Homo sapiens: one gene and its partner. The protein of the gene in region 1 interacts with the protein of each later gene in a pairwise test. Each region holds a gene or a part of one and is shown in the gene's direction. Other genes may lie near its edges.

Region 1 (3,815 bases):
TTGCCCAGGCTAGAGTGCAGTGGCGTGATCTTGGCTCACTGCAACCTCTGCCGCCCAGGTTCAAGCTTCTCCTGCCAGTAGCTGGGATTACGGGCGCCCGCCACCACGGCCAGCTAATTTTCGTACTTTTAGTAGAGACGGGGTTTCGCCATGTTGGGCAGGGTGGTCTCAAACTCCTGACCTCAGGTGATCTGCCCACCTTGGCCTCCCAAAGTGCTGGGATTACAGGTGTGAGCCACCACGCCTGGCATGTCCAATGTTTTTACATAGGTCAAAACCCACATATATATAGTTAGTATGAGTGGTTGCAGATTCACAAATTCTTCTCATACAGTGTATGTTGTTACAAATAAGTTATGAAAAATTTAGGCCAGGTGAGGTGACTCACGCTTGTAATCCCAGCACTTTGAGAGGCTGAGGTGGGTGGATCACCTGAGGTCAGGAGCTTGAGACCAGCCTGGCCAACATGGTGAAACCCTGTATCTACTAAAAATAGAAAAGAATTAGTGGGGCTTAGTGGTGCGAGCCTATAGTCCCAGCTTCTCGGGTGTCTGAGGCAGGAGAATCGCTTGAACACAGGAGTCAGAGGGTGCAGTGAGCCGAGATTGTGCCATTGCACTCCAGCCTGGGCAACAGAGCGACACTCTGTCTCAAAAAAAAAAAAAATTATGAAAAATTTATTTGAGGAATCAAATAAAATGTTAATCTCATTGTGTGCTTTATGAAGTTTGAATGCTGTTTTGTCATCTGTTCTGCTTTTAATTAGTATAACCTGAATTTGGTGACATGCTGGTTTTTTTAAATTTTTTATTTAGGCAGCTAATACTTGATGGTCAATGGGATGAAGTTCTTCAGTTCATTCAGCCTCTAGAATGTATGGAAAAATTTGACAAAAAAAGGTAAGATTTTATCTAAAGTTTTTAGTGTCTCATCATTGGTAGAAGCTTAGCAAAACAATGAACAAAAATTTTCATTTTCATTTTTCTTTCTCCACTGGCCTTGAACAGAGAGTAAACAAATTGATCTCTCTCTGTCACCCAAGCTGGAGTGTGGTGGCATGATCACAGCTCACTGCAGCCTTGGTCTCCTGGGCTCAAGCAATCCTCCCACTTCAGCCTCTCAAGTAGCTGGGACTATACAGGCGTGTACCATCAGCCTAGCTAATTTTGTATTTTTTTTAGAGTTAGGGTTTCACCATGTTGCCCAGGCTTCCCTTGTGTTCATTTGGATTATTTTAAGTTGATTTAATGTTCACTGACCCTTTCTTTTGCTATTAGCAATCTGTTGATAAATTGTGAATTTTTAAAAACAGGTTCTTGTTCTACCACCAGGCTGATGTGCAGTGGCATGTATGTGGCACTGCAGCTTCAAATTCAACAGTGAATTTTTCATTTTGAATATTGTGCTTTTCATTTTCAAATTCGTATAATTTTTTTGTAAGATTTTTCCATCTGTTCATTCATTATGATTATATTTTTCTTTAGGTCCTTCAACATACTGAGAGTAGCTGCTTGTTTGCTAGTGTAGTCCTTGTTTGGTAATTTGGACTTGTGCTTGCTTATATCAGGCTCAGTTTCTAATGATTGCCTTTTCTCCTAACTGGGAGTCACTTTTTGTTTTTTTTTTTAACTATATCTAATTATTTTGTAAATGTAATCTGCACATTTCAGCTTCACTCTTGAGGCTCTGAATTCTGTTCTCTTCCTACATAAAAAGTTTGATTTTCATACAGGCAGTTATTTAACTTAGGTAGCCTCAAAATGCAAACTCTTTCTCCCCTCTTGTGGATACCAGAGATTTGTCCCGAAATCTCTGCTCAGTTCTTTGGCCTTTCATCTGTTTTCTCCAGGCTCCTTGGAGTCTCCCTTGCATCTTCACAGTTTAGGGGATAGCCAGGGATATGGGTACCTAAGTTTATACAGTAGATTTTGGTATGTTTCCTACTGTGACGTCGTCCTTTTTTTGGATCTTCCTCTCATTTTTTAGCTGCTCTGGCAGTACCAAACTTTTTTTTTGAGACAGGGTCTCATTCTGTTGCCCAGGCTGGAGTGCAGTGGTGTGAACACAGCTCACTGTAGCCTTACCTCCTGGGCTCAAGTGATTTGCCTGCTTCAGACTCCTGTGTGGCTGGGACTGCAGGCGTGTGCCACCCCGCTAGGCTAATTTTTAAATTTTTTGTAGAGACCAGGTCTGACTTTGTTGCCCAGGCTGGTCTCGAACTTCTGGGCTCAAATAATCCTCTTGCCTTGGCCTCTCAAAGTGCTAGGATTACAAGTATGAGCCACTTTGTTCAGTCAGTACCAGACTTTTCAAGCTACAGCCTTCTGTTTGAGTTCTAGCTCACACTGTGTGAACTGGGGAGTGCCCTCAGCTGGAAAGCCTTATGCTGTTGAATATAACCCCTTAAATTTCTGGGTTTTTTTTTTTTTTTTTTGAGATGGAGTCTCACTCTGTCACCCAGGCTGGAATGCAGTGGTGCGATCTTGGCTCACTGCAACCTCTGCTTCCCAGGTTCAAGCGATTCTCCTGCCTCAGCCTCCCGAGCAGCTGGGACTACAGGCATGCACCACTGTGCCTAGCTAATTTTTGTATTGTTAGAAATGGGGTTTCACCATGTTGGTCAGGCTGGTCTCGAGCTCCTGACCTCGTGATCCACCCACCTTGGCCTCCCAAAGTGCTGGGATTACAGGCTTGAGCCAACGCACCTGGCAAATTTCTCTTTTTTTAAGGATTGACTTCCCTCTAGTTGTGCCAGCTTTTCAAATGCATTCAAAATAGTCATTTTTTGAGGCCAGGCGTGGTGGCTCACGCCTGTAATCCCAGCACTTTGGGAGGCCGAGGCAGGCGGATCACTTGAGGTCAGGAGTTGGAGACCAGCCTGGCCAACATGGCGAAATCCTGTCTCTACTGAAAATACAAAAAAAAATTGGCTGGATGTGGTGGCACATGCCTGTAATCCCAGCTACTTGGGAGGCTGAGGTAGGAGAATCACTTGAAACTGGGAGGCAGGGGTTGCAGTGAGCCGAGATCGTGCCACTGCACTCCAGCCTGGGCGACAGAGCAGGACTCTGTCTCAATCAGTCAATCAATAAACAAACAAATAAATAAAATCACCTTTTTTTGGTATTTTATGTAAGATTTATTGTTGTTATATGCAGAAATGTTAGCCAGATATAAGTTACTCTATCACTATCAGAAGTTGAACCTGTTGTTATTTTTTGATTTGCTATTCAGACCATGCTGCTTGATATTTCTTTGCGTTTGTACATTCTTTACTTACCTGGAATATTAATCCCTTCACCATCTCCTGCCTTTACCTGGTACACTTCTGATTGTCTTCTGAGAGTCAGTTGTTATGTCTTTTTTTTGTTAACTTTCCACCTCTTTTGTACAATTGGTTTCATACTTTTTTGAGGCCTTGCTGAACTCTGAATATTTCATATAATTTATTAGGTGACCCTCTTTTTGAAGGCAGGGATTTTGTTTTATTGGACACAATTTGCTACTACAACAGTGGCTGAAAGAATGACTGAAGGTTCATTATTTTTTTCTTTCCAGACTTGGAAACACTTTTTCTATAAATTGCTTCAGGCAATAAAGCTTTTGATTCTTAGACAGGTTAGGTAGACTCTTTGCTATCCCTTCCCCTCTGAAAAACTCTTGTTAAAAAGCTTTAAATTGGGACCAGGTGCAGTGGCTCATACTTGTAATCCAAGCACTTTGGGAGGCTGAGGCAGGAGAATTGCTTGAAGCCAGGAATTTGAGATCAGTCTGAGCAACAAAGTGAGACCCGGTCTCTACAAAACAATTTTAAA
Region 2 (3,815 bases), on another chromosome or scaffold:
CTACTCGGGAGGCTGAGGAAGGAGAATGGCGTGAACCCGGGAGGCGGAGCTTGCAGTGAGCCAAAATCACGCCACTGCACTCCAGCCTGGGGGACAGAGCGAGACTCCGTCTCAAAAAAAAAAAAAAAAAGACAGTTAAGCATGAACCTGTATGACATATTCCAGCAGCTTCTATCCTTGTAGGGGAGGGTGGGTGTGGCCGACTGCCACTACTGCTGCTTGAGACCCTCACTACAGCAGTTACTGCTGTTACTGCTTGAGACCATCATTACAGGACTGAACAAAGGGACAAACGTAGAAATGAAAACAAAAAGACAAAAGAAACTTTTAAGGAAAGGCAACATGGGGAAGAAGAGGAGAGCTCCCTGCTTCTAGTGAGTAAAGGCTGCCCCTGAGCTTCTACAGCCCTTCATATTTATTGGGTAACAAGAGCAAGGAGGAGGTAACAACTGGGCAGCTGCTAAATTGATCACAGGTTCATACTGTTACTGACAGGCTTCAATTATGCCTAATCATAAGAAACATTTGTGTGGCCTCCAACAGGTGGGGCCAGCTTGGAGGGTCTCTACCACTTGTCTATCCAGAGGTCCTGGGGTCAGTTGTCCTGGGACCCTCGGGGACTTGGTGAATCTCTTGCTTGATGTGTCAGTCACTTGGTGAGGGTCACTCCTCTCCAGGGGGGCACACGATGCTTTGTGGAGTATGATAATTTATCACTAAGGGAGGCTGTAGAAATATATATATGAGACAGGTTCTTGCTCTGTCGCCCAGGCTGGAGTGCAGGGGCATGATCACAGCTCACTGCAGCCTCGACCTCCTGGGCTCAAGAGATCATCTCACCTCAGCCTCCCAAGTAGCTGGGACCACAAGCGTGTGCTACCATGCCTGGCTAATCTTAGTTTTTTTATTTTTATTTATTTATTTATTTTTTTTTTTGAGATGGAATCTTGCTGTGTCACCCAGGCTGGAGTGCAATGGCACAATCTCAGCTCCCTGCAAGCTCCGCCTCCCAGGTTCAACAATTGTCCTGCCTCAGCCTCCTGAGTAGCTGGGATTACAGGCACCCGCCAACATGCCCAGCTAATTTTTTTTTTGTATTTTTAGTAGAGGTGAGGTTTCACCATCTTGGTTAGGCTGGTCTCGAACTCCTGACCTTGTGATCCGCCTGCCTCGGCCTCCCAAAGTGCTGGGATTACAGGCGCGAGCCACCGTGCCTGGCCGATATCTTTGTTAATTAAGGGTATAGCACATTTTCATTTGTGTTGCAAATGTTTCCACTATAGTAGTAGTTCACTTTTGTTGTATTTATTTTAATTTTGATGTTTAAATTGTAGATAGCCAAATGTACAAATCCTTTCCTCTGTGCAATTTGGTTTTCAAGACATACTTAGAAATAGCTAATTTTCTCATTTTCTTCTTGTTTTTTGGGAGTTTTAATATTTAAATTTTATATCCATGTGGGGCCGGGCGTGGAGGCTCACGCCTGTAATCCCAGCATTTTGGGAAGCCGAGGCGGGCGGATCATCTGAGGACAAGAGTTTGAGACCAGCCTGGCCAACATGGTGAAACCCCATCTCTACTAAAAAAGTATAAACATTAGCCGGGCACGGTGGCACACACCTGTAGTCCCAGCTACTCGGGAGGCTGAGACAGGAGAATCAGTTGAACGCAGGAGGTGGAGGTTGCAGTGAGCTGAGACCCCGCCACTGCACTCTAGCCTGGGCGACAGAGCAAGACTTGGTCTCAAAAAATAAATAAAATAAATGTTATATCCACGTGGGATTGTTTTGCTGTAAGAAAATAAATTGGTGGCCGGGCGCAGTGGCTCACGCCTGTAATCCCAGCACTTTGGGAGGCCGAGGCGGGTGGATCACGAGGTCAGGAGATCGAGACCATCCTGGCTAACACGGTGAAACCCAGTCTCTACTAAAAATACAAAAAATTAGCCCGGTGTGGTGGCGGGCACCTGTAGTCCCAGCTACTCAGGAGGCTGAGGCAGGAGAATGGCGTGAACCCGGGAGGCGGAGCTTGCAGTGAGCCGAGATCGCACCACTGCACTCCAGCCAGGGCGACAGAGCGAGACTCCGTCTCAATAAAAATAAATTCGTATCTAGATTGGCTTTGTTCTTATTTTCCTAATGTGTCGCCCGTTGTCTTCACCCCATTTATGGTCAGTGCGTTAGTCTCCCACTGCTGTGAAGTCCGTGCGCTGCTGTTGGGAAGATGGTGTTGCTGGGTAACTGGCTGTGTTTCTTCCAGATTACAGAGTCACGGGAGACACCGTTCTGTGTTACTGCTGTGGCCTGCGCAGCTTCCGTGAGCTGACCTATCAGTATCGGCAGAACATTCCTGCTTCCGAGTTGCCAGGTAAGGAGCCCCCGACTTCCTCATGGCTCTAGTTCTGTCTGGGTTGGCTTCTTGGCTTCTGCCTCTCTTTTTTTTTTTTGAGACAGTTTCGCTGTTTTTGCCCAGGCTGGAGTGCAGTGGTGCAATCTCGGCTCACTGCAACCTCTGCCTCCTGAGTTCGAGCAATTCTTCTGCCTTAGCCTCCTGAGTAGCTGGGATTACAGGCACCCGCCACCACGCCCGGCTAATTTTTTGTGTTTTAGTAGAGACGGGGTTTCACCATGTTGGCCAGGCTGGTCTCGAACTCTTGACCTCGGCCTCCCAAAGTGCTAGGATTGCAGGCATGAGCCACCACGCTCGGCCAGCACTCTTTTCTTTACAGACACCCTGTTTGCACTTTGCTCAATGTTCTAAGCAGAATTTGGCCTCAGTCAGGAGCCGGCAGGACGTCAGGCCATACAGGGCTGTGGTTGTTTTAGGCCCTGGGTCTATTTGCAGTTACTCATGAGTGTAACGTGGGTTTCTAAAACAGATTTGTAAAGACATCCAATAGTCAACTGGGGTAATTTTATTTCCTCAATTGGGTTTTTATTTTTTAATTTTTATTTATTTATTTATTTTTGAGACAGAGTCTGACTCTGTCGCCCAGGCTGAAGTGCAGTGGTGTGATCTTGGCTCACTGCAACTTCCCTCTCCCAGGTTCAAGCGATTCTCCTGCCTCTGCCTCCCAAAGTGCTGGGATTACAGGCATGAACCACTGTACCTGACCCTCAGTTGGGTTTTTAGTTAAACATGTGTTTCCTTTCCTGAAATCTCAGAACGGTCCGAGGAAACTAGTTATGGAGGGACCAGAGGCCGTGCGTTTCCACCGCAGCGTCTGTCGTTGGGTCTCTGCTGGGATTCAGGTAGCTGAGTGGGTGCGTGCAATACATCTCATAGATGCGTACCCCTTCTCTTTTTCCAGTGGCCGTAACATCCCGTCCTGACTGCTACTGGGGCCGTAACTGCCGCACTCAGGTGAAAGCTCACCACGCCATGTGAGTGCAGCTGGGGGCACAGGCGTCAGCTACAGAGTGATGAATGAGTTAACTGCCTGCTTATAAATAGGCTGATATGGTCATTATGCTTCTCTCAGGTTGCATCCTTTAGGAACCGGTATCTTCATTTAGAAATCCTGCTCTTCCTTTATCCCTTCGTTTCATGCAGTTTTATCTCCGTCTTCCACTTCTGTGTCTTCCTGGCTGGAGTAGCTTTATCTGTTGTCTGAGGCATCCGGGGCACACCCCATCATTTCAGGCTTAGCCGTTTCTAAGTCGAAGGCTGCAGTCACTGAGGGCCTCAGGCCCCCCTCGCAAAGCGCTGCACAGCTGGGTTCTCGTCCGTCCCGTGAGCAGGCATTTGTGATTGCTGTCACATCGTCACCCTCACGTGGTGTCTTTCCCGTGCTCCTTAAAGGAGGTTCACAGCGC

Evidence for each region.
Region 2: the proteins of WDR47 (region 1) and CHFR interact in a two-hybrid assay, tested with the Homo sapiens proteins (one large-scale study listed by IntAct).

What each region holds. Positions count from the first base shown.
Region 1 is NC_000001.11:109,014,602-109,018,416, reverse strand, and holds part of WDR47 (WD repeat-containing protein 47), read left to right. Parts: intron 1-815; coding exon 816-899; intron 900-3,815.
Region 2 is NC_000012.12:132,842,579-132,846,393, reverse strand, and holds part of CHFR (E3 ubiquitin-protein ligase CHFR), read left to right. Parts: intron 1-2,259; coding exon 2,260-2,367; intron 2,368-3,310; coding exon 3,311-3,383; intron 3,384-3,815. UniProt on the Homo sapiens protein: E3 ubiquitin-protein ligase that functions in the antephase checkpoint by actively delaying passage into mitosis in response to microtubule poisons.